2 separate regions of the Homo sapiens genome follow, and region 2 is linked to region 1. The links come from fine-mapping of genetic effects on plasma protein levels. A gene starts in region 1. The other region holds a variant in brackets. All regions are shown on one strand. Distances are between the middles of the regions.

Region 1 (2,919 bases):
ATAGTCAAGGAGAGCCTCTGGAGAAGAGCATGCGGTCTGGATTTGGAAGCCTCAGTTTGATTTCTGGCTTTGTCACTTACCTTAGGCATTCAGTAAGTCACTTCACCTCTGTGTTCCTGTTTCCTCATCTGTAAAACAATGATAATAGTAGTAACTACTTTATAAGGTTGTTATAAAGATTACATGAGTGAATTCATTTCCATAAAATACTTAGAATATTATCTGGCCCATAAGCACTATATACATTCTCATGGTTTTTCTTGTTTCTTTTCATAGATATAGGTGGCTTCCAGACAATCTTTCCATACTTGGTGGTTAGAGCAGAAGAGATTCATGAAGAGCACTGCCCTTTGAAACAAAATCTCATATTCAGAAAACTGATGCCAAACACCAAGTAGCATGATTTCACTCTGAAGCAGTGTTTCAGCCATTGCCCTGGAATGGTTTTAAAGCAAGTGATATACTGCTGAAAGTGCTGCCTTTGATATTAAATGTTCATTAAAAATCTTCACTAAGACATAAAGTTTTTCACTACTATCTCTTGGTAAGGGTTCAAATTTGAGATGAAATTCCTTAAAGTGGTTAAAGCATTCATTGTCCCCTCTGCCTGATGCTTTTAACTAGTTTATTTTACAGAAGGAGTACTCTCTTCAAGTGGCTGTAGATTGAGACACTCTTACAGGCTTAGTTGTTGAGTCAACCACATTTAAAAAATGCACCTGCCCTTTGGTTTATGGTGCGTAATGCATTCCTCTCATAAACTGTAAATTGACAAAATTCCTTTGCCATTTTAAAATTGCTTAAAGTATTTATTTTTCTATATTCCTTGTAAGGAACTCCCCTGAGCACTCTTAACTTAATTGCTCTCTGAAAAATATTTTAAAGAAATTCCAGAAGTGGTAAAGCTCAGAGGAGCCCCACAAATACAAAGTGCTGAAGTAAAATATGATGCTAAATGGTGATAAGAGACTTAAAACTAGATTTCATTGTGATAAGAATGTGATAAAGTTTGATTGTAATTCTTATACCTCCTTTCAGAAAATCATGTTATAGAAAAATGTTCCTAAGCAGTAAAACAAAGCCATTTTAAAAAATAACTTCTCATGTGCACTCTTTAACAACCTAAGTGTTATGAAGTCTCTCAATTGAGATCTTTAACCGTAAATAGTTTTTGCCTTTTGTATTATGTCCAGATCCTATTTAATGCAATTAGAATACAAATTCCTATGTACTGAGGACCTTGATTACATAGATGAGATATTTCTTAGTTCCAGTTGGTGTTTCTCATCTCTTGTCTTCTCTGACCCTATTTATACATTCTCTGTTTTTATCAGATGATTCTTCCCCAGAACGGACTGGGAGAGCGAGGTCCGGGTTTCCTTCTATTTATTTGCATCGATGTCGCTCCGAGTCTTCAGCACTGGGCCGCGTATGACAGCATCTTAGTGGGTGCGGAGCGGGACAGCGCGCCGGGGGCGTGGCAGGGGCGTGGCCTGTCCGCGGGGCGGGGAGTGCGGGGCGGGGCTTCCGCGGAGCGCAGCGAGCGGGCACATCCCAGGTTAGCTGCTGCGAGCCGAGCCGGGCGGCGGAGGCGGCGGCGGCGGCGGCAGTGGCGGCAGTGGCGGCAGTGGCGGCAGCGGCAGCAGTTGCAGCAGTGGTGGCCAGAGCGGATGCTTGCGGGCTCCCTGCGGCTCCACTAGTTTTCTTCGCCCCGCCCAGCCGCCCACTCTTCTCGGCTAGGGAAGAAGACCAGAGGGTGCTCAGCTGGAAAACTCTGGTGTCTCAGCTTAGGGCCTCCTCCGGGAAGAGCTAACTGCTCCCAGGTGAAGCCGGTGCCCGCGGGCGGTCCGTACACCCCGCAGCCGGCTCGCACCGCTCGAGAGCCTCGGCCGCTGTGTCTTCCACGTCTGCAGCTCAGCCAGGGCGCGCAGGGCGAGTGGGGTCCACTGGCGGGTAAAGGGGACCAGGACGGCGAGGATGGACGCACAGACCTGGCCCGTGGGCTTTCGCTGCCTCCTCCTTCTGGCCCTGGTTGGGTCCGCCCGCAGCGAGGGCGTGCAGACCTGCGAAGAAGTTCGGAAACTTTTCCAGTGGCGGCTGCTGGGAGCTGTCAGGGGGCTGCCGGATTCGCCGCGGGCAGGTAAGGGGCAATGAGGGGGTCTCTGGACTGGCGGCGTCCGAGCCCGGCCTTCGCTCCCCCAGGCTCCCTTGGTGGCACTCGTGGGAAGATGACCTTTCGGGCCCTGCAGCCGCGCAGGGTGAATCCCGGGGAGGCTTCCGGGGATGCTTGGTGCGGGTAGCCTGAGTGCAGCGCAGCGCAGCTCTGGGGACCCCTAACCAAGCCTGCGACGAATCCCCGTTCTGGGCATCTGCTTCCCGCCCGGCTCCCTTCGTCTTGGAGGATGAGTTGGAAGGAACCAGGAAAGCAGACATCAGGGCGTGGGGGACACGCAGTCTAACTCCGTTTCTCTTCCGAGTAGGAATTTCCCCAGTGCCCCACCGGGGATTTCGGTTTACTGCTTTCTCATAAGGTGGAGGGAATTGAATTGATCGCCCCAAGTTTGGTACTAAAAATCACAAACCTGCGATATACCCCTTTGCTGGAGAATGGGGCACAGACAAGGGCAGCCGGTCTCCTCTGTAATTAGGACTTGGACCCTGTGCACCCAGAGACGTGACCCTTAGCTGCCCTTCTGTGCCCTCGTATCAAGCCCTGCTTGGAGGAAACCCAACCACCCAGTGTGTCTCCCAGCACCAAGGTAGTTTTTAGCCTGAAAAGTGTTAGGGCAACAGGCGATCAAACCGAACGTACTGGGGAGTCACTTGACATGGATGAGATGTACCAGCGTTCCAAAGGGAAAGATACAGTTTGTGTGGCCAGCGTGGATCTTGCTTCCTGTGAGCGCCTTTTGCCTGTGC
Region 2 (2,919 bases), 370 kb after region 1:
GAACTAAGAGATTTAGGACTTTGGACTTGGTGATAACGCTCTGATGGGTAATACGTGGGTCCAAAGTGAAGTTGATGCCTGAAAGGAAGATTAGATGAAGGGAGATGAATCATACAAGTTACAATCTATGCTGACTCTGGATGCTGATTTTTTCTCCCCCCCGGACAACTTTAAGACCATGTACATCTCATGGTACGCACTTTCATGGACATTTTTGTTAAATGGGAATCTAAAGAACCCCATGAATCTGAAATGTTTTGGGTTAGAGACATGTTGGGTGGGATTGTTCCTATCAAAAAGATGAGGCACTGGAATGAGGAGTAGATCCACGTGCAAAGACCTGCCCAAAGTCAAAAGTCTGAGTTTGCAGTCTTCATTAAGGGAAGAACTGAAACATTTGTGCTCATTTGTGACAAAAATAAAAATTGCAGTTTCAGATATAAGGGACTACAGAATTCATCACATTGCAGATTACACATTCTAGGTTCAATTAGACAAATCCAGGTATGGCTGATGGTTTGAAATCAACAGAAAATAAATTTGCAGGATTCTTGGCTGTATAATATCCCTATGCCACAGTTGTACTCTCCCTGCCTTCCTCTATTACACTTTCTTGGTAGGTAATTTTTATTTCATTGATAGTCCCTAAGTAGTTATCTCATGGTTTGGGTCTATAACAAATATAGTCACCCCTTGGTATCCATGGGGAATTGTGTCCAGGACCTCTCTCAGGTACCAGAACTCAAGGATGCTCAAGTCCCAGCTATAAAATGGGGTAGTATTTGCGTATAACCGATGCACATCCTCCTGTTTACTTTAAATCATCTCTAGACTAAATATAGTACCTAATACAATGTAAATGCTGTGTAAATAGTTGTTATACTGTTTTTTAAAACTTGGTGTTGTTTTTTATTTTTATATATTTTTTTCTTCAAATATTTTTGATTCGTGGTTGGTCGAATCCTTGAACACAGTTGAATCCTTGATCTGGAACTGGTGGATCCAGAGGGCCAACTGTAATACAGGAGATGTTTGCAAGGACATGCACATTTTATCAGCTTGGCTCCAAGTCCTGACATTCCTAACTACGGTTAAAGCTTAGGGAAATATTAATCATTCTCAGGTCAATATACACATTTTGGTCTTTTCTAAAAATGCTCTATGAATGCGGCAATAATTGCGTGGTATATCATCTTCTGAGCTGAGACAGGTCTTCCGTATCTCTCTTTAATGACGTATTGGCTTGGTAATCAGTTGTCTCTTGTTAAGCGTGTGTAATCATTACATTCAGAAAGCCAGACTCAGAAAGGTCTGAGTAGAAACATTAAATCCTCTAGGAATGCCATTTTTACTTTGTCACCAGAATAAAATCATGGCCAGCTGTCAGAATTTTTTTGCTCACTATTAGTGCCTGAAGGCTCTTTCATTATGGGTTAGTTCCATAAACCGTGTAAATTCAGTAATGAAAATGTCCAGTCCAACCTAATAATCAAACGTGTGAAATTCTCTTACTCTTCGTTTTTCCCCTCGTCCAGTTAGGTTCTGCTTCAGTCTAAGAGTCCCTAGTAGGGTGTGTATGTGAACCTTTTCAGGTTCGTGTGCCAACCTTGCACTCTCCTCGTCCTTCAAACAATGTTTCTGACTCCCCTGTGCTTGTAGTTGGCAGGTTTCGAGCTGGGGAGATGA[T/C]GGATCAAAAGTGAGAAAGAAGAAGTGAGAGAAGAAATCATTCTTTGTGACTGGTAATTTTATGATCTCTCATTGATGTTTTCTAGCCTGGCAGGTATTAACAGCTGATGCCCTAGTGCTTTTGTGTGCTTAAGACAATGTCTCTCCCCTCTATTTCTCCATGTGATGGTAATGTTTTGGCCTCTTTCTGCTGAGATCTTTTGGTGGGTTCCTTTTCTCCCATATCATCTATTCTAGCCCATAGAAACCTTCCCTCTCTTTTCTACTTTTGGTGGAAGTACAGCCTACACCTAATGCAGCTGCCTCTCTTTACTCTGCCACTAGACAGCCAACTTCTGCTACAAGAATGGGCTGCCTTCCATTTGCGTAGGCATAGGCCAACTACCAGCCCTTTTAGTCCTTCCAGCTCCAAGGATCCTTCAACACTTCTCTCACCTAGGACCAATGAATGAGGGAATGCCGTAGCAGTTCAATCAGCTTTCTTCAAACAAGTTCCCTGCTTTGTTCTCTTCAACTTCAATCCTTTTATTCAATTAAGGTGGATGTCAAACTGTGGGACTGAAAACAAGGTTTCAGTCATCTGCTTTTCATGTCTAGCACCTCACTGAAAGTGAGGGGTGTATGCCATCTATTGTCCCTTGTTCTTGGCTGAAATGGAAACAGAAAGAGTACTATTTTAGCACCCTTTTCCATGTACTTGGAAGTGGTGCAGAGAAGACAGAAAACTAGTTTCCAAATTCAAGATACTGCAATAGACCTTGAATGGAACGCAAAGTTATATGAGATATTTTCCCAATCTTTCAGGGACTTGGAATCTCAAACTGGTAGAAAACATGTTCACAAAACACATTCACAGCAAAACAGGTTTTGAAATAAAAGAAGTGTACAATCCCACAGACTTTCAAATAGGGGAAAATTCTTTTTTGATTGAGAGGATTCAACAGTATTTAATGAAAGAGGTAATATGTGATATGAGTTTTCATTCAATTAAAATAAATTCTTTAAAATATGGATGAGATGAGATAATGACTGAGAATGCTTTAAAATAATTCAGTGAGTGGGAGAAAGAGGGTCATATTATATTTGAAGTGAAGTTTTCTGAGTGAGTAATCATTGAAGCTGTTTGATGGGAACGGAGTGTTATACTATATTTTCTGTATATTTGTATTCACTTAAAATTCTGTAATACATAAATACAAAAATATAGTAACACAATAAAAATAACTTTGTCAC

Which allele goes with the higher level. Alleles are on the strand shown, and positions count from the first base shown. The strength of an association depends on the size of the effect and on how common the allele is.
With allele C in place of T in region 2, the plasma level of the protein whose gene starts at base 1,552 in region 1 is lower (strong association).

What was found. PIP is the chance, under the fine-mapping model, that this variant and not a neighbour inherited with it causes the effect. Protein levels are from antibody-based Olink assays in UK Biobank. Linkage for the fine-mapping came from a reference panel and not from the study's own genotypes, which makes the PIPs less certain.
Region 2: its variant is fine-mapped to the plasma level of the GPC5 protein (UK Biobank, PIP above 0.99).

Annotation. Positions count from the first base shown.
Region 1 is chr13:91,397,070-91,399,988 of GRCh38, forward strand. It overlaps GPC5 (glypican 5), which reads left to right and starts at 1,552. Exons shown (of 8, transcript NM_004466.6): 1 at 1,552-2,140. The coding sequence starts at 1,978. It overlaps LOC124903189 (a long non-coding RNA gene), which reads left to right. Exons shown (of 2, transcript XR_007063831.1): 1 at 1-92; 2 at 277-519. RefSeq lists silencers at 1,366-1,660, 1,367-1,636.
Region 2 is chr13:91,763,118-91,766,036 of GRCh38, forward strand. All of the region lies in intron 5 of GPC5 (glypican 5), which reads left to right. Among named protein-coding and RNA genes, the nearest start is that of GPC5, 370 kb to the left of the region's middle. The variant T/C (reference allele first, on the strand shown) is at 1,687.